Homo sapiens: one gene and its partners. The protein of the gene in region 5 purifies or fractionates together with the protein of the main gene of each other region. This does not show direct contact. Each region holds a gene or a part of one and is shown on either strand. Other genes may lie near its edges.

Region 1 (4,188 bases), on a different chromosome or scaffold from region 5:
TCTCCTTCTCATGTGATCCAATAGCTGCTACTTCTGTACAGCCTCCATCCATTTCATCTTTTGTAAGGTCTGTTTACAAGGTGGATAGTAAGTGACTCCAAAAGTGTCAGCATCCTACAAGTTACAGAAAGAAAGATTGTAGATTACCATCAGGAAGAACTCTGTAACTGTCAGAGCCATCTAAAGATGAAAACGTTTGACCTGGAATGATGTGAGTTCCCTACCATTAGCCACTGGCCAGCTGATAAGAATGTATTAGCACAAATTAAAGTGTTACATTGCATAAGATAATGTACGTGACAACTTGCTGTTGTATCTTTGATATTAAATCTGAAAACCAGTATTCTGAAAACTTCAGTGTGAGATCATGCTGTATTATCAAAAGAATTCCCAGAAGGGAGCAGTAGAAATCCATAAACTGAAAGAAAATAGATATTCTTTCCCAATCAACAGCTGTTTTCTCCACCTACTGTTGGAAATTATATTCTTTTTTGTGATATCAGGTGCATGGGATGCATCTTTCTTTGCCATCCTAATGAGATGCTCTAGAGAGAGTGTAATTTGCCTTAACTTGAACCTTGATTGCTACTCTGTGATGATTGCTCTTAGAATGCTTCTGGCATATATTCATGAAAGATGGTTGGGAATCAGAGACTTAAAGAGAAAAGAAAAGTAGATTTTTAGGATTTAAATGGACAGTTGACAGGAAAGTCATAGACTCATTTTCTTCCTGTCCCTGGAGTTCTTCAGAGCAGCATTGGGAAAATGTCCAAAACTGTTTATCAAATTGTCAGAGGCATTTATGAAACCTCAAGGTGCAAATCGACAGAATTATCTTTTAAAAATAATTCACCCTTTATGCATGGGCAGGGTGCCTGTAAAAGTCATTGGATTTACATAACCTTGAAGATCCGTTCCCTTGTTTCTGCTGCTTCCTGTGTGTATTTCTCCTTACTGCTGCTCCTAGCTACATGGGTTAGGAGGTTGATATGAAAGGCCATAGTAAAGTTCTTTAATTGGCACACCTGGGGAGAAACTGAGCTGTGACCATCTGAATCTTGCTCTATATTCTTTTCCCAGGTGTATCTGTCTTGTGAGTCCCTTCATCTGGCCTTTCTTCCTCTGCAGATTTAGTTATGGTGTCAGTGCAGAAGTATACCCATGCCCAGCTCCCTGCATGCTATTAGATTGTATTCTGATGATATCTAGGTGCTTGTGGGATATCTTGTGCCCACAGCAATGGCCTGTTCATCTGAATGCTTAATAAGAGTTTATATTCAGTCCTGTAATAGACCCATAGTTGCTATAAACATGAATAAGGTAGGGAGTGTTCTAAACAAATAATTAACTTCAGGCTAGTATATCTTATGCTGAATGCTGATTTTAGTAAAGATTTTACGGACCCTTTTTCTTTATTCCTTCACTGTTAACTACTTATACAGTGTTATCATAGCCTCAATTAACATTGAGCCACCATTTTGTCATCTTTAGTTTTTGAACTGTCATGTGGAAAATGAAATCCTAAAATTGAATCATGATCTGTGCCATACTTTCTCTTCTCCCTATATAGAACTGCAGTGATTTTATCTTCTTGGAGACTGATAAGTAGTTTATTGCCTTTTTTTTTTTTTTTTTTTTTTGGTGAATTCACAGATTTGTCCAGTCATTGTGCCACAACATTCAAAGAAGATGGATTATGGACTTACCTCAATCAGATTGTGGCCTGTTCCCCTTGGGTTTTATATATCTTGATGCTAGCAACTTTCCATTTCTCATGGTCAACATTTTTATTATTAAATCAACTCTTTCAGGTATTTATTTCTCTTCTTATAATGGCTTTGAGTAAAATTTCTAAAACTTGTAGTGAGACAGCCTTGAATTTAAAATCAGAAGATGCACATTCTGTTTTTACCTCTGTCACTGACTCTGTGGGTCTAGCCATGTCATTTAACCACACTTGAATTTCAGGTATTTTGTCTGTAAAATGAGGATAATAACGCCTGTCTACTACATTAAACCACAAGATGGTTTAAAGGTTAGCATAATAAATTATTAGAGTATGACCTAGGAGTTACCTAATCTGACCTCTTTATTTTACAGATAGAAGTACAGAAAGGTAAATTGAATTGCTCAAGGTCACCCAGTGTGTGGCAAAATCAGAACTGGAAACTTAGGTCTTCTGCCAGTCCCATTCAAGGGCTTTTTCCATTGTACAGTTAAATTATATGTTGTGTGTAAGCATAGTATAAACTGTAAACCATCATGCAAATGTCAGATGATTGTTTTCCCTCAGTTTTTCCAGCGCTGTTTGTTACCCTTATTACTATGCAGTGTTTAAATGGATGAGAGTGGTAAGAAATGAAAAATACATCACTAACCAGTGGTCATAGTAATTACATTTTCAGAGAAGGCCATGGCCATTAGAAAGTTCAAGCTCCAGGGCAGTAGTCACCTTCAGCTTTCTCCAAAGCTTTAGTCCCTTCCCTGCTGGCTTCCATCCCCTATGAGCCTAACCTAATTCTCATTATTGCTGTGTCCTGCCCATGTGGAATGGGCAGCAGGTGGTCATCAGTCTGAATCAATTACTGTAAGACCTCAGATAATTAGAGCATTACTCAACCAAAGCAAAGTATATTCCACTTTTATGGGAAAGTAATCAATCTCAAAATAATAATAATGATAATAATAACAAGAAGAGAAGGAGGAAGGGAGGGAAAAAGAAAGAAAGAGAAAAAAGAAAATGTTTAGGGATGAAACTGAGTTAATAATATTGACTAAACTGAGGTTTCCGAACATTCCTCTCACTCTCCTATCACTCTGACTTCAATAGACTCCAGCAGCAAGAATAGATACTAGCATCTGTGATTATTAGTATTATCATTTATAATACCTAGTATTTATAATGCTTTGAGACATTGTTTCTAATTATCTTTCTTTTTTTCTGGAATCTTAGAATAAGTACAAGTATATGAGATGATAATATCCTTAATTTTTTAGAAAAAGGTCAATAAGGCAAAAAATGGACTCAAAGTTTCAGATAATTTTCAAAAGGAAGAATTCAGAACAAAGCTGTTTTCTTAATGAACAAAACAATCCAGTTCTTCGGAAACGTTCATTTCCTGAGCGCTCTGGGTAGTCGTGGCTTTGACTGTAGCAAGTCAAGATGAGTGTCTAGGTTGTTGGTTAGGAGCATGGCTTTATTCTCACACTGACCAAGGAGTCAGTCCCAGCTCTCCCACTCTAAGCTGTGTGGCTTTGAATCAGTTACTTCATCTCTCTAATCCTCTGCATTAGGTATTTGATTTTATTTACTTATTTATTTATTTATTTTTTGAGACAGAGTTTCGCTCTTTCACCCATGCTGGAGTGCAGTGGCGGGATCTCGGCTCACTGCAACCTCCGCCTTCCCGTGTCAAGTGATTCTCCTGCCTCAGCCTCCCAAGTAGCTGGGATTACAGGTGCCCACCACTACGCCCAGCTAATTTTTGTATTTTTAGTGGAGACGGGGTTTCACCACGTTGGCCAGGCTGCTCTCGAACTCCTGACCTCGTGATCCACCCGCCTCGGCCTGCCAAAGTGCTGGGATTACAGGCGTGAGCCACCGTGCCCTGCCGCAGTTAGGTATTTTAAATAGACTATCTCAAATCCTTAAAATAATATGATGAGAGTGGTATGATGAGCTGCTTTACAGATAAGGAATTTGAGGTTTAAATGAGATAACTCTGTGAGTAGTTATGGTTTTTAATGATTTAAGAATTTTTAAGTTACCTTAATTCTCAGTCTTCCCCATGTTTTTGGAATTAAATGTTCTTTACTTCTGATTAACTTTTTCTTTGTCCCTTTTCAAGGAGATACTAAGGAGAACACACAAATTGAGATAATTGCACTGATACTGATCTTATATTGTTTTATTTATCTAAAAGTTGCACACTGAATGTGTGCAACCTTCCACCCTTCTTTTTCAGATTGCCTTTCTGGGCCTGACCTCCCATGAGAGAATCAGCCTGCAGAAGCAGAGCAAGCATATGAAACAGACGTTGTCCCTCAGGAAGACACCATACAAGTAAGCGAGACCTGTTTTGGATGCTGAGTCCTGTGGAAGATCCCTAGTCACTGGTTTCCTAAGCTGGTGCCACTACCCATGGCCATGCTGCTGTTCTGTAATTTGCCATCTAGTACAGTTGACCC
Region 2 (4,856 bases), on a different chromosome or scaffold from region 5:
TACCTGAATAGGAACTTGAATGGTTTTCAAGGAATGACAGTCTCCTTCCAGAAAGTGTCATGTGTTTGTTATTCGTCCAGTAACACTAAGAATCTAAATTTAAATTTTGGTTTAGTTTGGGATTGGTGCTGGATTTTAGGGAATAATCTTATCAGGGCTGGATTATTCTAGTTAGTGATGATCTGAGGAAACACTGCATTTCTTCAGATGGAAGAAGGGAGCACTGGCAGCTTGCTTTTTCTGAAAGCTTTGATTACAGAAGTATAGGTCCCTGATGCTTAAAGGGACCTTACAGCACATCTGATTCAACTGCCTTTTATAGGTGAAGAACTGATTCCTGTTAACCTGATAACATAGAAATTGCCTATCCTATTTTGTGAAAATCATCCTACTCTAGAAGTAGGAAATAATGGAGTAGGAACCTGGGCACTAAATTATAGTTGTTATATTATTAGGACTAAGTGTGTATGTCCACGGGCCTGACAGAAATGAATGCTCTGGACCCCATCCACTTGCCTTTCATTTGTTCCTGTGCCCTTTTTTCATACAAAGTGGATGGCCTCTTTAGGTTTCCTTTAGGAAATGTGTAAGTGCCTACAGGCCTTTGTGCTCACATTAAAATAATTTTTTTTGTTTTTATTTTTTGGAAAAATAACTTAAAGTCTGCTCAGAGACAGCTCAATTTCTTTATTTTAAAAATGGGATAAGACACACTATTTTTAGATGGCATTTGTGACTATCCAAATGAACAATGTAAAGTACTTTCAAAAATAGTGCTTTGTCAAAGAAACAAGTTATTCTATTTACTTTATGTATGCATTCCATTTATTTCTTCAGCAAATATTTATGAAGCACTTACTAGCATGATCACAATTTCAGTTAAATAGTTAAGTACAGTAGTCCCCCCTTTATCCATGGGTTCATTTTCCACATAATTATTCAATTTAATTATTAGTTATTGTTAATCTTTCACTGTGCCTAATTTATAAATTTAACTTTATCATATATATGTATAGGTAAAAACATAATACACATACATAGGTTTCAGTACTATCCATGGTTTGAGTCATCCACTGGGGATCTTAAAACATATCCCCTTGGATTAAAGGGAAATACTGTAATTAATTGCTTACTGCCTGTATCAGTCACTAGAATTCCAGCTTTCTGGGAAAAGGTACTTCTTCTCTTTTGTTCTCTAATGCTCAGCACCCTGCGTGGCTGGCATTTAAAAGACTAACAAATATTTGTTGAATGGATGGATGAATGCATGAATGAAAAACCAAATGAATAATGAAAACAAAAGTGTATAATACACTATAACACGTACTATATTGGGCTTGCGTAGTACTATGGGAATCTATAGTAGGAGCATTTAAAGCCAGCCTTGACGGGGCTAATCTCCGGAAGAGCAATTAATCTTTTCAAAATCCGACTCTTGCAGGATACGGTCCCCCACTGGCCTGCCACTAGTTTAAAACGAATTAGTTTCTGTGAAACATCAGGATCGTGCCAATAGTAGGGGACCAATAAGACTGAATAAGTCAAAGGGCTGCGCGGACAAGTCCAATTAGAACACCTCTGGCTAAAAGCCAGAATGAATGAAAGGGTTCATGCCTCGGCGTAGACACACAACTGGGACTGAAAAATCTGCCCCAAGCCTCCACGTCGACTTTGGCTCCACCTGCAGCGGCGGCGCCGTAGTCACGTGACCCGGGCCCCCGCGCCCTAGGCGCCTGGGCCAGCCTGCGCCTGCGCAGTACTCGGAGACAGCGGACCCGTGTCAGTGACAGCTTCCGGTTTGGTTTCTCCGCCTTCTGCTTGGCTAGAGCTATTGGGGCTCGGTGGCGGCCGCAGTGGGGTGGAGGGGGCAGGGCGTGGTGAGGTAAGGTGAGTGCCGTAGTGGGGTTCCCTGGAGCCATGGCCTGCTCCATTGTCCAGTTCTGCTACTTCCAGGACCTCCAGGCCGCCCGGGACTTCCTCTTTCCTCACCTGCGGGAGGAGATCCTCAGCGGCGCCTTGCGGAGGGACCCCAGTAAGTGCCTCTCTGGCCTCGCCCTTCCTTCCCTCGTCACCCGCGGCCTCTGCTCACGGGTTCGAGTCTCCTACTCGCTCTGCGCCTCCTGCCTCTGCCCTCTGGACCCCCAGTTCTCCCCGTGCCTCCCCTCCGCTCCGGGATGACACCCTGCCCACCTCGTCCTGAAGCCCCATTTGTGTTGTCTTCCTCTCGACCCAGCTTTTCTCCTTAGGCCCTCTGACCCCTGGCTAAAAACTGCGTCTTGTTTCCTCTCGCCTCTGCCTATCACCGCTTTCTCCCTCCCTCCCCCCACCCCCACACATTCCTAGCTTTCTCTCTGAGTATCTTCTCCGTCTCCCATCTTCAGCCTGGGGTCGTTCCCTGTTTCATGTTGCCTGCTCCGTGATCGCATCCTCCCCGTTCCTTGCCACATGTCAGCGCTCCACTCTGGTATTGCCCCAGCTCCCACTCTCTTCCATCCCGGAGACTGTGGCCTTCTGCTACCTCCCATTCCGAAAGTGTTGATCATCCCCCCACACTCTCCCTTCTTTCATCTGCATTTCCCCCATTCAGATTTTGAGAACAAATGGCTGACAAATGAGTGACTCTTGAGGTAAGACTCTCTCAAAGAAGGAAAATAACCTGTCAGGAAGTGAACGAGAATCTACATTAGGAACTAAAATTACAGTGACATAGCCAAGAAAGGTTAATTTGCTTTATTGAAGCCTTCCACCTATTTTTATCATCAAAGTGTTTAATAAGCCTTTCCCCAAGTAGTATAAAGTTCCAAGGCTGGTTTATTAGATACTATATAGGCTTTCAGAATTTCGTACATTTCATTTTGAAAGGGTGTGCCTTGTGTTTTATTTTATTTTATTTTATTTTATTTTATTTTTGCATTTCCAACCTGAAGCACATTTGGCTTTGTAGTACAGCGCTCTCACTTTGTGCTATACCGGAATGGTGATATAAAGCCCACTAAGCTCCTCTCCCTTTTTTAGAAAATTTAGAAGATATCAAATCGAACCCATCTGTGAATGATTGCATACTTTGTGCCAGTCATTGGTGCTACAAACCAAATAAGGTTGGTGGACCCTGCTGTAGGAACTTCTGGTTTACAGACAAATCATTAACTTCCATTCAGTGTGACTGAGATATACATGAGGCATTTTCTTGAAGTGGTGATACTTAAGCCTACCTTTGAAGTACTAGTTAGAGGAGTAAAGGAGCAGTAATAGCATGTGCAGAGGAAGGGAGGCCTGAAATGGCATGGTATTTAGAGAACTAAGAAAAGCTGAATGGCTGGAGAGGAGGATGGGAGAGGAAGAGTTGGGGCAATGAGGCAGTAGTAGTAATAAGGAGCTAGACCATGAGAGGCCTTGTGAAAATTGTGGCGTTTCTCTGAAAGTTTAAGTAGAGAAATGACATTGTCAGATTTGTACTTAATGTAATCAACAACATTTGTTGAAGACCTGTAATGTGCTCTGGTAGCAAAGTGGAGGAGAGATTGGAAGAAGGGAAATGGATTGGGAAGCTCTTCCAGTAATCCAAGCAAGAAATTATGTGAGCTTGAATTAAGAACCTTAGTAGGATGAAGATGAAGGACTAGATTAGAAAGACGTTAAGGAGTTAGAATCTGCAGGACCTTGTGAAGGTCTGGTGATGGGCATTGTAACTAGTAAGTGAGGGGGAGTTTAGGAAGTCTTTGGCTTGTGGTTTGGGCAACTATATGTAATAAGAGAATGAAGGATACAGATTTTCAACCTTTTGCATTTTAAATGTTTATGGTATGTCCAAGTAAGGACATCTGGTTGAACACCAGATATAGATAGTCTAAACAGTAGGGAGTACTGGGCCAGAGATGTTAATTGGGGAGCTAACAGCAAAAAGTGTCAGTTCAGTCTCAAGGATTATGTATGTTGTGAAATGCACTGAGTACTAAAGCTGTAAGCTTAGAGGAGCACTGGTGTTTAAAAGTCAAGTAGAGGTTACTGGGAAGAAGACTGAGAAGGAGTAAAAGAAAGAGGAAAATCATGTGAGAGTAAGGCCCTCGGAGCTGAGGAAGGCGAGAACTTGATGAGGGTGAGGAATGGTCAGCAGTTTTGCAAATGCAGCAGGGGTCAGGTAAGAAAAGGATAGAAAAATGCTTATTGGTTTTGAGAAGGTGGAGGTAACTTGGACCTTAGGACAGTTTCAGTAGGATAGTGGAGGCAGAAAGCATAGTTATAGGATAAGGGGTTAAAAAGTGAAATATACTATTTCAAGGAGCTTGGCTGTGAAGGATAGCAGATGCAGGATTGTAGATAGGGAATGTAGAAAAAAGGAACAGATTTTCTTTATCCTTCTACCACTCTCCTGGTCCAGGCCACCATCTTTTCTCAACCTGGGCTATGATATGATATGTGTCTTCTTCTAGCAATTCTTCCTGCTTTTGCTCTTGGTTTCCTGTAATAATTCTCAACAGTAGTTACAGTGAGCTTTTAAGGCATAATTTAGATCACAACATTGCCTTTTTTTTTGAGATGAAGTCTCACTCTGTTGCCCAAGCTGGAGTGCAGTGGCATGATCTCAGCTTACTACAACCTCCACCTCCTGGGTTCAAGTAATTCTTCTGCCTCAGCCTCCTGAGTAGCTGGGACTACAGGCATGCGCCACCATGCCCGGCTAATGTTTGTATTTTTAGTAGAGATGGGGTTTCACTATGTTGGCCAGGCTGGTCTTGAACTCCTGACCTTGCGATCCACCTGCCTTGGCCTCCCAAAGTGCTGGGATTACAGTCATGAGCCACCACACCCAGCCTAACATTGCCCTTTTAATAACACTCAATGGTTTTTGATTGCAC
Region 3 (3,429 bases), on a different chromosome or scaffold from region 5:
TCAATGTTGACAATCTGTTCCAAAATAATCTACCATTATCTTTTCCAAGCGCTTACTAAGCCGCACAGCTGTTTTCTGTTTCACTAAAAATAATCTGTTCTCTATCACCTTATTTTAAAGTCATTTTTCAGCTGAATATCTGTAAGCACAGTTTGCAGAATTCCTAATTATTTCACTATGTGCCTTCTCTCTCTCTCTTTCCAAGATTCTATGATTTAAGATATCTTTACTTTGACTGAAACACTGGAATATCTTCTGTGTCATAAGGAGTATTTGGAATATGAATTCTTGGAGGATAGGCATTATAAAGATGTCTTTCATCTTAATATGCCCACAGCACCTTGTTCACAGAAGATACCTGAATGTTTGTTGAATGAATTTACTTGAGATCTTAGCAGGTCCAGCTGTTGAGTTTCTTCAATATTGATAACTCAGCAAATCTGTCTGGTGGTTGTCTGTCAGTCAGGATCAACTAAATTAAGCCCTAATAACACAACTTTATTGTATTAACACACTGAGATTTAGCAGTTGTTTATTACGCTACATGCCCAAAGGACAGCAGGGGAGTTCTCTTCAACAAAGTCACTTAAGGATCTGGAATGAGAGGTTTCATCTCAACATATACTTCTATGATCACACAGGCAAGAAAAGGAAATATGGCAAATTAAAGACTGGCCCTTAAAGTTCCACTCAGAAGTGACATATATCCCTTTGCACTGGTTTCTTCGGGCAAAGCAAGTCATATAACTAGCTTCAGAATTTTTTTTAAACAATGTACTTAGTAATGTAGTTTTCACCAGAAAAAAAAATGTAGCATGAATTTGTAATTATGTATTTTGCCCTGAATTATCTTGGCTCCCTACTTCACTTTAGAAGAGACGTATCAACCTAAAAGCAGAGGTTTATACTGCACAAATAAAGAGTCAAAAACCAAGACAAAGGTATGCAGTTGCAAAATGGCCATTTATTGCCTACAGGGGAAGGAAAGGGAGGGAGAGAGGGGAAGTACACAGGTGCAAGGAAACAAGCATATATTTAGCCCTATACATCATGTGTGAGCAGTAACCAATCTCCAAAATGGAAAAAAATATTTTGTTATCTGACATAGTAGTTAAGGTTCTTAAGCACCTCCCTTCTGAGCTGCCACAAGATTTAAAAGGCAGGACTGCTTTTTTTTAGTCAATGTTCACATTAATGAAAAAATACTACCAACCGTGTCCTTTTGCACGCACACTTTGTACAGTGTCTATTGTGAAAAACATCTCAGCTGAGCAGTTTTGGTCAAGATTCAGACCTCATCAACTGTTTAACTGTAATAAATAGAAAAATAAAGCAGCTGGTGATTTTGTCAGAGAGAATGTGTTCAGTAAGAGTAGAACCACTTTCTCCAGGGATGGCAGAGAGTGTTAAATGGTTAAAACACCTACAGAACCAGTCTATTAAACATTAAACACTAGCAAGCTACAATTACATGGCACTTCATTAAATAGTCTAATTTAAAAAAAAATCTTAGATTTTAAACTGATTACTGAAACACAAAAACAAGTTGATTTAGTCCTTGGCTTTTTCTTAGAACAAAAGCAAAGTAAATATACAACCTAAAACAGCAGAATTTGTTTTGGAATAGTATCAATGGAAACTACCAAGTATTCAGGGAAAAAGTTACTAAAACACCTTGCTTGGTTTTACAGTCATGTGCTTTGCTTTGCAACCATTAGAATTAGATAGTTACAAAAACACTTTATAGGTCACAGAATGACTCAAATGTATGCAAAATAATGAATTCTTTAACTTAATGCCAGGTAATGAAAATAAATGAACCTTTCCCTACTCAAAACGATAAATTGAGTGGAAAAGTAGATTGTCCCATGGACAATTAGTTGGCACTTGTTATATAGTTGAAAAAAATCACAACAGAAGATATAAATTAATCGATGGTGAATTTGACCAACACCCTGGCCCTTATAGAGAGAAAAAGTACATACACACTCTCTTTAAAAAAAAAAAAAAAAAAAAAAAAAAAAAAAAAAAAAGCCCTCCATACTTCCCCACTCCAGAGACAACAAAGCCAAAGATGAAACATTCAACCTTCTCAAAATATTCCAAGTAGTTCTATTGAACTCTGTATCTCAGCTTCTCCAAGATGAAAAAGTTGTTTGCATTTGGACAACAACTGTACGAATGCCCATAGTGCACATCTCAGTGCTGCTGGTGTTTAAGAAATTTGTCACTCATAACCCTGAACAATTCCAGATCCAGTGTGCAGTAACACAGCCATCCAAATCCCTCCCCTTGAAAAGTTGGCAGAGCACCGCTCAGGAATTTCACAGGTAAGGGAATATATTTTTAGCAAGTTAAGCACAGAGAAAGGACAGTACAGTTTCTAAGTAAATACAGACCCAGATACTGCATCACTTACTGCATCAAGATTGAAACAAGCAGCAGGATACTAAGTCTGTTTGGTAAGAAGCAAAGCCATTGTTTGACATCAATGCTGAACCAATTTTGTGACTTCAGATAACTACAAACTAAATTAAATTGGTACATATAACAATTGATAGCTTGAAAGACAATACATCAGTGATTTGAAGTTAATACGAAACTGAAATGAGCAAGAAAGGACCACTTCTGAGAGGGTTACCATGATTCTTACGCTTTAGAGTTAAAAGTGACAGACATACAACTGGAAAATTATCTAAATTTTGAGAGATTGTTCTAACAAAAATAACTAGTACTAGGCACCAAACTAGAGCCTCCGAAAGATTCTGAAAGCTGAATGGACCATGCTACCACCATGCCAAAAGAGTCATATCACTTGGCATTTGTATATCCTTTCCATAATGTGATTTGTTTCTGATGACATACTTCTAAAATGCAGTTCAATGCTACTCAGTTTATACAATGTACCATAAAAAAAAATTAACAATTAATAAGCACAAATGTCCTTATGTCATAGGCTTTGAAAGTGAAAACTATTTTACTTAAAAAATATTCTATTACTTCAATGTCATGTCTGTTGAACGAAGAACTCAACATGCTTATTTTCCTTTGGTTCCAGGAAAAACCCAAGTCTAACCAAATGTATGCCACAAGGAACTGCCAACTGGGTTAAAGCTTGGTATTTTCCTGGTTATCACCCTATTTCCTGGTGTAGGACCTGGGGTTTAATAGAGACATTTACATAAAAAAGGTATTTGGTTAAAACAAGAAATATGCATGCTCTTCCTTACCACCTTCCTGGAAAGAACTGCTTTTTTTTCTTTCTTTCTGTGAATCTTGTTCAAGACATCCTGTAGTTTAGATATATGGGCTGCTTCTTTTTTACCCTCAAGCTTTTAGGTGACACTTATAAAGGTGAGCATATCATTCTATAAAATGAAAGATGCTCTTGGCATCCTGTTCTTAAACAGATTAGAACTTTGGTAAATA
Region 4 (4,188 bases), on a different chromosome or scaffold from region 5:
TTGAACAAAAAATAATTTGCAAGAAAACCTGCTACAGAAGAGCCTTGTGCAGTTTTGAAAATATAGGCCAGGTGAGGTGGCTCACGCCTGTAATCCCAGCACTTTGGGAGTCGGAGGATGGGGGCGGATCGTGAGATCAGGAGTTCGAGACCAGCCTGTCTAATATGGTGAAACCCCATCTCTACTAAAAATACACAAATTAGCCAGGCGTGGTGGTGCACGCGCCTATAGTTCCAGCTACTTAGGAGGCTGAGGCAGGAGAATCGCTTGAACCTGGGAGGTGGAAGTTGTAGTGAGCTGAGATCACGCCACTGGCCTGGGGAACAGAGCAAGACTCCGTCTCCAAAAAATAAAAAAATAAAATAAATATAGCGTTCAGATAGTATAGTAACAAAGTCCTATCTTTTTTTTTTTTTTTTTTTTGAGATGGAGTTTTGCTCTTGTTGCCCAGGGTGACGAGTGCAGTGGCGCACTCTAGGCTCACCGCAAAACCTCCGTCTCCCAGGTTCAAGTGATTCTCCTGCCTCAGCCTCCTGAGGAGCTGGGATTACAGGAATGCGCCACCACGCCCGGCTAATTTTGTATTTTTTTCAGTAGAGACAGGGTTTCTGCATGTTGGTCAGGCTGGTCTCGAACTCCCGACCTCAGGTGATCCACCTGCCTCGGCCTCCCAAAGTGCTGGGATTACAGGTGTGAGCCACCGCGCCCAGCCACAGAGTCCTATCTAACAAGGTGTTACCTGGAGAAGGCCTGCTGGCAACTTCATTGCAGAAGTAGGCACAAGTTCCCTCAAGTGTAAGGGTCCCTCAGGGTTTGTGCTTTTGTTGGTGGTGGTGGTGGTAGACTTCGTGAAAGCCACCACAGAAATACCGTGAAAGTAAAGTACCACCTGGGCACTGGTGCTTGTCAAGGAGTGGGCCAGGTCCCTCTTTTCTGTGCTTTCTGTGCACGGGCACCTGGTGCCCTCTTGTGGCCAAAGGCTATCACTACGACCCGCTCTATATGGACTTCAGGCAAAGGTCGATTTTAGGCTAGGAGTGCTGGGGAGGCTTGTTTTGAGTTCGGCTTTGGTTTGTTGTTTGGTGGGGTGTGGGGAGTGGAAGGTGTTGTCTAGCTAAGCCCACCCCACAGGCAGCAGTCAGTCTCACAGCCTCTCTCGTCACAGCTACCGGCTGTTTACCCGAGCCCAGCCCCGCGGGCCCTTGGGTGGGGATGGGTATAGTTGCAGAAACAAGCGGAAGCCGGTCTCTCTTACCACCCTCCGTGGTGAGCAAGGAGGGCTCCCCTCCCTGTCCATGGAGGGGCAGTGCTGACGCGATGTCCGGTATGGTTCTTAAGACCACCTGGCTCTCCCCACAGCAACAGCGGCGGGAGCGGGAGCAGCGGAAGCTGCAGGAGAAGGAGCAGCAGCGGCGGCTGGAGGACATGCAGGCTCTGCGGCGGGAGGAGGAGCGGCGGCAGGCGGAGCGCGAGCAGGTAGAGCGCCGCACCCGCATCCCTGCCCTCCCGCCCTCCCGCTCCTGCTGCCTGCCGCCCCTGCTCCCCGTGCCCTTCCCCCTTCTCTCCCCCACCCCCAGATTCCTCCTATCTTTTCTAGCTTCACTCTTTCTCTCTGTTTTCTCCCACCCTTCAACCCCAACCCTGACCCCCTCCCTCTTCCTTCCCTGCCTCATTCCCATCTCTTTACCCCATCCCTGACTCCCCGACCCCTTCCTCATCCCCCCTCATTCCCTGTGCCCTCTTCTTCCCCATCTGTGCCGCATGGCCCCCTGGGGCTCATGTCATCCCCTCCCCTACCTCTCTCTTACTCTTCCCCTGCACCCCCTCATTCTCCTGCGGATCCCTTCCTCCTTCTCCAACTCGCTGCTGCTGCCCTCCTCTGCCTCTTCCTCCTTCCCTGCCCTCTGCCCCCCACCCCACACCCCGTCCCCCAGGAATATATTCGTCACAGGCTAGAGGAGGAGCAGCGACAGCTCGAGATCCTTCAGCAACAGCTGCTCCAGGAACAGGCCCTGCTGCTGGTAACGGGTCCCTCAGCGTCCTCTGGGAAGATGCTTTTCAGAGCTTCTTTGCTGGAACGGGATGGGAACACTTCAAGGGAAGGGATTCACCCAGGACATCAAGGGAATACATCTCCTCTCTAGGCAGTTGGAGAAAAGAGAGGGCATGCCTGCTCTAACTCCCAGGGCCACACCCTGCTGAGCCCTCTCTCCCTACCCTTGGGCCCAGGAATACAAGCGGAAGCAGCTGGAGGAGCAGCGGCAGTCAGAACGTCTCCAGAGGCAGCTGCAGCAGGAGCATGCCTACCTCAAGTCCCTGCAGCAGCAGCAACAGCAGCAGCAGCTTCAGAAACAGCAGCAGCAGCAGCTCCTGCCTGGGGACAGGAAGCCCCTGTACCATTATGGTCGGGGCATGAATCCCGCTGACAAACCAGCCTGGGCCCGAGAGGTACTCACTGCCTCCTTTGCCTCCTGAGACTGCAGTCCCACTGCCTGAGGCCTGGAGAGCCACAAGAAGTAGTAGTTCACAGTAGCAGGCACCAAGTAGGGGAAAGGAGCACACAGCACAGAGCATAGGGCGGGAGTAGTTAGGGCAGGTGGGACCCTCAGTTTTGAGAACAGGGAGGCAAGAGCTGGCCTGCTTGACATCCCTTCACATCACAGGTAGAAGAGAGAACAAGGATGAACAAGCAGCAGAACTCTCCCTTGGCCAAGAGCAAGCCAGGCAGCACGGGGCCTGAGCCCCCCATCCCCCAGGCCTCCCCAGGGCCCCCAGGACCCCTTTCCCAGACTCCTCCTATGCAGAGGCCGGTGGAGCCCCAGGAGGGACCGCACAAGGTGAGTCTCTCCCCACCCCTGTCTTAATGAAGACACAGGGAGCTTTGTTCAGAGCACAGGTACACACACACGCGCGCACACACACACACACACACACACACCTGCTCAGCCGTGAGCCAGGATTACAGAGCACAGGCTTTGTGGACAGACTCACTCACCTGCTTCTTGCTGCCTGTGTCTGTCCTGACTTAGCTGTCATCAGGCTCAAGGAACCCCTTGTCCTTCAATGGAGGAAGGGGCAGCTAAAGTCCTTTCCCACCCCAGACCCCAATTCGCAGGTGGGGATGTGCCATGGAGCAGGCAGCCCACCCTCCCTGGTCTCTCCCTGCAGAGCCTGGTGGCACACCGGGTCCCACTGAAGCCATATGCAGCACCTGTACCCCGATCCCAGTCCCTGCAGGACCAGCCCACCCGAAACCTGGCTGCCTTCCCAGCCTCCCATGACCCCGACCCTGCCATCCCCGCACCCACTGCCACGCCCAGTGCCCGAGGAGCTGTCATCCGCCAGAATTCAGACCCCACCTCTGAAGGACCTGGCCCCAGCCCGAATCCCCCAGCCTGGGTCCGCCCAGATAACGAGGCCCCACCCAAGGTAAGGACAGTTCTGCAGGCCCAGGGAAAAGCAGAGAGCTAGTCATGAAGAGAAGGAGGGCAGTGAAGGGGCAGGCCACATGGAGGAAGAGTGCAGGGCGGGAAGCGAGAGAAAGCCAGGGCGCTGCCCTGCCGGGGTCAGCCGTCCAGCTGAGGACGCGACGTGGAGGGGTGGCATCGATCCCTGTGGGGAGCGTGGGAACGGAGAAACGCCCAGGGTGTTTTGGGAGCGCTAAGGGGCAGACTTTGCCAGTTAGAACCGCAGCTCCACCATCATCCGGCTTCATAACCCTGGACGTATTCACTAACTCCCCTGAACCTCAGTTTTCTCATCCATCAAAGTGGGGGAGCTCACCTCTCAGAGGTGAGGCTTAAACATCTGAGAAGTGCCTGTCGCAGCGCCAGCTCGCAGCACGTGGACTTCTCTCCACAGGTGCCTCAGAGGACCTCATCTATCGCCACTGCCCTTAACACCAGTGGGGCCGGAGGGTCCCGGCCAGCCCAGGCAGTCCGTGCCAGGTAATGCCTGGGTAGGGCAACGCCTGGGTGAGGTCTGAGGGCAGCCTAGGGAGTAGGGGGGGCACAGGGACTTTACCAGCCTACCCGCCTGGGGGTGGGAAAGCCCCAGCCCCATCACCTCAGCGCCCCCCCGCCGCCCCCTCGGCACCCCTGTGCTCCCTTCACAGACCTCGCAGCAACTCCGCCTGGCAAATCTATCTGCAAAGGCGGGCAGAGCGGGGCACCCCAAAGCCTCCAGGGC
Region 5 (4,877 bases):
TCAGGTGATCCACCGCCTCGGCCTCCCAAAGTGCTGGGATTATAGGCGTGACCCACTTCGCCCAGCCTAGATATTAGTAATTCTAATAAAGGGAAGTAGGGAATGATTACAAGTATTGATCTGGCAACTGCTATGTGTACTAAAACTTTATATTAAACTTTTTCACAAGCCTTTGGAAGTAGGTCTTAACCCATTTTATAGATGAGGCAATGGATTTGTCTGAAATGAATATAGGTCCACTGTTAGGACCTATGCTGTGTTGTTAGCTGCTAATGACAGAGTCTTTATCTTCTGAGGTGACAGAAGCTTCTGGGACTTCATGATGAGACCTTATTACTTGAGATTAGAAGAAGCTCAGAAAAGTCATGTCTTAAAAATATTTGTGGCTGGACACAGTGGCTCATGCCTATAATCCCAGCACTTTGGGAGGCTGAGGCGGGCGGATCACTTGAGGTCAGAGTTCCAGAACAGCCTGGCCAACATGGTGAAACCCTGTCTCTACTAAAAATACAAAAATTAGCCGGGCGTGGTGGCGCATGCCTGTAGTCCCAGCTCTGTGGGGAGGCTGAGGTGTGAGAATTGCTTTAACCCAGGAGGCGGAGGTTGCAGTGAGTCAAGATCGCACCACTGCACTCCAGCCTGGGTGAAAGAGCAAGACTCCATCTAAAAAAAAAAAAAAAAAAAAAATTATATATATATATATATATATATATATATATATATATATATATATATATTTTGAGGTTCGCGATGTATGAACCCTGTAGTAGCAGCTTCAGCATCATTTGGAAACTTGCAGAAATGCACATTTTTGGGCCCCACCTCAGACCAACAGGAACAAACTCCACGTGGGACCCAGCAATCTGCATTTATATAAGCCCTCTTGCATTGTCTATTTTGAGAATTTCTTATGCTATTCCTTTCAAACAACTCTAGCTTTCACTATTCATTACTGAGATCATCTCCTGGCCCCAAAGGCCTCTGCATTTTCTAGCACAAGGGAGCAACTTGCAGACCCCTGGGTTATTTATATACCACCTCAGAGGAGCTACACCAGGCTGGGAGAAAACACTTCCAAAGTCCAGTCAAAAAACTGTTAAAGATTTTTGTTTTTCTAGGTGTGGGTGTGGTTTTAAATTTGTTTTTCTGATTTGTTTGTTTTCCATCTATGGAAGACCTACTGGTTCCATAAGACCTTAATTTTCTTTTTCCTTTGAAGATTAAAAAGGGCTGTGAGGATATTGCTAACTGAAAATTTATGCAAGTAAAATTAGAATTTTCCATCATTCTCCTTCAACATTGCCAGTATATAAGAAGTTTTACTAAATTCAGAAGCTAATTTTTTTTAGCACGTACCTATTTTGTTAGTGGGCATAGCAGGTCCCTTTTCTTTCTAGCCAAGTGTATTTCTCTGCCCCTTCTTCTCCCACAGAAGATAGCAGCAGATCTCATCCTATCCAGTAATTGCCCCAGAAATACTGTGAAAATTTTGACACCTTCACCGCCGTTTGTGAGATAGAAAAGTTCGTTTTAAAAAAAGAACTGTTGGCCGGGCACAGTGGCTCACACCTGTAATCCCAGCACTTTGGGAGGCCGAGGTGGGTGGATCACTTGAGGTCAGGAGTTCAAGACCAGCCTGGCCAACAGGGTGAAACCCCGTCTCTACTAAAAATACAAAAATTAGCCAGGCGTGGTGGTGGGTGCCTGTAATCCCGGGTACTCAGGAGGCCGAAGCAGGAGAATCACTTGAATGGAGGCTGCGGTGAGCCGGGATCAAGCCATTGAACTCCAGCTTGGGTGACAGAGGGAGACTCCGTCTCAAAAAAGAAAAAAACGTTGGTGACATTTCAGACCAGAAGACCTGCTCCTGACAATGGTTAGTATAGGGGGATTTGTTGATTTTCTCCAACTAGTATGTTTCTCATGATCTATGTAGGCTCTTTGCAAAGTACTAAGTGTTCAAATATCTGGGCTGCCTTAGAATGAGAAAGGGACACCCAAGGGACAGTTATCTATTCCAAACACCCTGTGAAAGGCTTCTGGTGCTTGATATCTTGACCTTCAGAGCACATATCCAAGAGAGGGACTACTGTGGTACACCACCATGGCAAGGTGGGCGGAGGGTATGAATGCTGTCAAGCATATTTTTAATCCCAGAATATGGGATTTAAAAAAGTATTTAATCCCAGGATCCTTTTCTTTCTTTCTTTCTTTTTTTTTTGAGACAGAGCCTTGCTCTGTCACTCAGTCTGGAGTGCAGTGGCGCGATCTCCGCTCACTGCAAGCTCCGCCTCCCGGGTTCACGCCATTCTCCTGCCTCAGCCTCCCGTAGCTGGGACTACAGGCGCCTGCCACCACGCCCGGCTAATTTTTTTGTATTTTCAGTAGAGACAGGGTTTCACCGTGTTAGCCAGGATGGTCTCGATCTCCTGACCTCGTGATCCGCCCGTCTCGGCCTCCCAAAGTGCTGGGATTACAGGCGTGAGCCACCGGGCCCGGGCCCCCCGGATCCTTTTCTTGCCACATCTTCTAAGAGGAAGTAGAGGTAGAAGTAAAAGTCTTTGTCAAATGTCCAGCCTAGGTCGCGGCGCGGTGGCTCAGGCCTGCAATCACAGCACTTTGGGAGGCCAAGGCGGGCCAATCACTTGAGGTCAGGAGTCAGCCTAAATATTCGGCAGAACCAACATGGGACGAGAGCGCTTCTAAACCTAGGTCCCTGCACCTCTTCGCACAAAGTTTAAAGATGGTTCACCCCATCCCCACCGCCCAGAAGTCACTGTCAACCACTCCAGAAGGGCTTGAACCTACAAAGTCTGCTCAAGCTGCTCAATAGCTCCCAGATATGGAACACCTGATTCTCCTGGCCAAAAAGGTTTCCCCTTCACACCCCACTTCCCATTCCAAGGAACCCCATCTCTTGATTTCCCCACCTGGGAAACAGGGCGTTAGCGCCAAAGTGCAGCTGAGGTCCTGAACTGTAAACGGAGATCCCGAGGGTCTGGAGCTGCCGAGAGTGCGAGAGGCTCCCACTCCCCGCCGGAAGAAGGGGCTTGGGCCTCCTGGGTCCCTATCCGGGGGCGGGGACCAGAAGGTTCTGGCTGAGGCGGACGATGCGGTGGGAACCTGGGCCCAGTCCCACCATCCGGGCCCGGGGCTCACCTGCTGAACTCTGAGGGTCTCACGCTCCAAAGTGGCGGCCGCTGTTCGTGGCGCCTGGCAACCGCCTTTGTGACCCAGGACGGCAGGGCAGCCCGAGCCGCGGCGGGGATGGGGGCTCGAGGCGCCCTACTGGGAGGCGTCAGGGCCACACTCCCCGCCCCCACCTCATTGGAATGCCTTGTCCAGGACTTGGCCTTCAGGAGGGCTGGTCCGAATCCTGTCCCCTCCATTGTCCTCCTCCCTACCGTGCCACACCTGTGTACCTGTGTGCCTTTGATCAAGCCACAGAGGACAGGCGACCCCTACTTCAATGGCCATGGTCAGAGGCCTGCATAAAAGTCCCAGGACCTGTAGTTAGTGTTAAAAGTTAGTCCCAACTCATCACACTCTGCTCAGTGGGTGCTCAGGCAGAGTGACCCAGAGCTCTGTCAGGTTTTGTTGCTCTATTTGAATGATCCCAGTGGCAAAGAAAGAGAATTAATAAATGTTCACCTGTCAAGAGCAGGAGGAAACGCACGTCTTTCCTTGATTTCCTGACAGAAAACCTTTCTCAGCCTTGCGTTAAACCTGAGAGTACCTGTAATCCCAGCTATCTAGGTGGCTGAGATGGGTAGACTGCTTGAGCCCAGGAGTTCAAGACCAGTCTGGGCAACGTAGTGAGATTCCCAGCTCAAAAAGAAAACAAAAAAATCTCAAAAAGAATGATTTTGTCTCATTCTTATAATGCAGAAATACACTTTCGCCATATTAGTGAAGGAGTGATTTGACAACTTTGTAATCATCACTTAAAATAATGACCCTGGATGGCTGAGGGAAGGGAGGAGTCTACCCAGCTGATGTCTGTATTCCCAGTACCTGGCTATTGCCATGTCTGGCAGTGTGCAGTATTTGTGGGAGGAAGTAACTAATGGCCTACTTGGCCTTCCCTTGTACACCCAGAATTGCCCTTGCATTTTACAAACTATAGAACACACACCACAAATAAGACTTGTCACCTTTGTTCTGGTTTTTTGGGTAAAGCTGATGGAGAAAGACTGAGGGTCTGAGAATAGAGTCAGGCAAGATCCTGATTTAGAAGACACACACCCACTGTGTGTACATGTGCACCTTTTGGAAGAAGAGGTAAGTGGAGAAGAGTCTGGAGGGCATGTCGGGTCAGAACATGAAGAGAGAGGCACAGAATAGTGAGACTTGGAAGAGACACAAATGATTTTGAATTACAAAACTTTTTTCCCCAGTTAGTTCATTTTTATTTCCCTCTTTTTTTTTCTTTCTTTTTTTGAGACGGAGTCTCACCGTGTCACCCAGGCTGGAGTGCAGTGGCTTGATCTTGGGTCACTGCAACCTTCACCTCCTGGGTTCAAGCGATTCTCCTGTCTCAGCCTCCCGAGTAGCTGGGATTACAGGCGCGTGCCACCAGGCCCAGCTAATTTTTGTGTTTTTAGTAGAGACGGGGTTTCCCATGTTGGCCAGGCAGGTCTCGAACTCCTGACCTCGTGACCTGTGCACCTCGGCCTCCCAATGTGGTGGGATTACAGGCGTGAGCCACCACACTGGCTTTATTTCCCTCTTGAATAAAAAAGACTTTTTTTTTTGAGATGGAGTCTCACTCTGTCACCCAGACTGGAGTGCAGTGGCGTGATCTCCACTCATTGCAAGCTCTGCCTCCCGGGTTCACACCATTCTCCTGCCTCAGCCTCCTGAGTAGCTGGGACTAC

Evidence for each region.
Region 1: the proteins of FANCD2OS (region 5) and ZDHHC13 purify together in Homo sapiens (co-immunoprecipitation; one large-scale study listed by IntAct). This does not show direct contact.
Region 2: the proteins of FANCD2OS (region 5) and RAB3GAP2 purify together in Homo sapiens (co-immunoprecipitation; one large-scale study listed by IntAct). This does not show direct contact.
Region 3: the proteins of FANCD2OS (region 5) and CNOT6L purify together in Homo sapiens (affinity purification with mass spectrometry; one large-scale study listed by BioGRID and IntAct). This does not show direct contact.
Region 4: the proteins of FANCD2OS (region 5) and MINK1 purify together in Homo sapiens (affinity purification with mass spectrometry; one large-scale study listed by BioGRID and IntAct). This does not show direct contact.

What each region holds. Positions count from the first base shown.
Region 1 is NC_000011.10:19,168,758-19,172,945, forward strand, and holds part of ZDHHC13 (palmitoyltransferase ZDHHC13), read left to right. Parts: intron 1-67; coding exon of another isoform or gene 68-210; exon of another isoform or gene 211-211; intron 212-1,653; coding exon 1,654-1,811; intron 1,812-3,965; coding exon 3,966-4,063; intron 4,064-4,188. UniProt on the Homo sapiens protein: Palmitoyltransferase that could catalyze the addition of palmitate onto various protein substrates. Palmitoyltransferase for HTT and GAD2. May play a role in Mg(2+) transport.
Region 2 is NC_000001.11:220,269,399-220,274,254, reverse strand, and holds the start of RAB3GAP2 (rab3 GTPase-activating protein non-catalytic subunit), read left to right. Parts: upstream 1-1,801; 5' UTR 1,802-1,917; coding exon 1,918-2,032; intron 2,033-4,856. UniProt on the Homo sapiens protein: Regulatory subunit of the Rab3 GTPase-activating (Rab3GAP) complex composed of RAB3GAP1 and RAB3GAP2, which has GTPase-activating protein (GAP) activity towards various Rab3 subfamily members (RAB3A, RAB3B, RAB3C and RAB3D), RAB5A and RAB43, and guanine nucleotide exchange factor (GEF) activity towards RAB18.
Region 3 is NC_000004.12:77,712,443-77,715,871, forward strand, and holds the end of CNOT6L (CCR4-NOT transcription complex subunit 6-like), read right to left. Parts: 3' UTR 945-3,429; downstream 1-944. UniProt on the Homo sapiens protein: Has 3'-5' poly(A) exoribonuclease activity for synthetic poly(A) RNA substrate.
Region 4 is NC_000017.11:4,888,288-4,892,475, forward strand, and holds part of MINK1 (misshapen-like kinase 1), read left to right. Parts: intron 1-1,359; coding exon 1,360-1,476; intron 1,477-1,934; coding exon of another isoform or gene 1,935-2,021; intron 2,022-2,229; coding exon 2,230-2,448; intron 2,449-2,663; coding exon 2,664-2,837; intron 2,838-3,168; coding exon 3,169-3,429; intron 3,430-3,861; coding exon 3,862-3,947; intron 3,948-4,114; coding exon 4,115-4,188. UniProt on the Homo sapiens protein: Serine/threonine kinase which acts as a negative regulator of Ras-related Rap2-mediated signal transduction to control neuronal structure and AMPA receptor trafficking.
Region 5 is NC_000003.12:10,105,085-10,109,961, forward strand, and holds the start of FANCD2OS (FANCD2 opposite strand protein), read right to left. Parts: upstream 3,172-4,877; 5' UTR 2,931-3,171; intron 1,454-2,930; exon of another isoform or gene 1,376-1,453; coding exon of another isoform or gene 1,357-1,375; intron 1-1,356.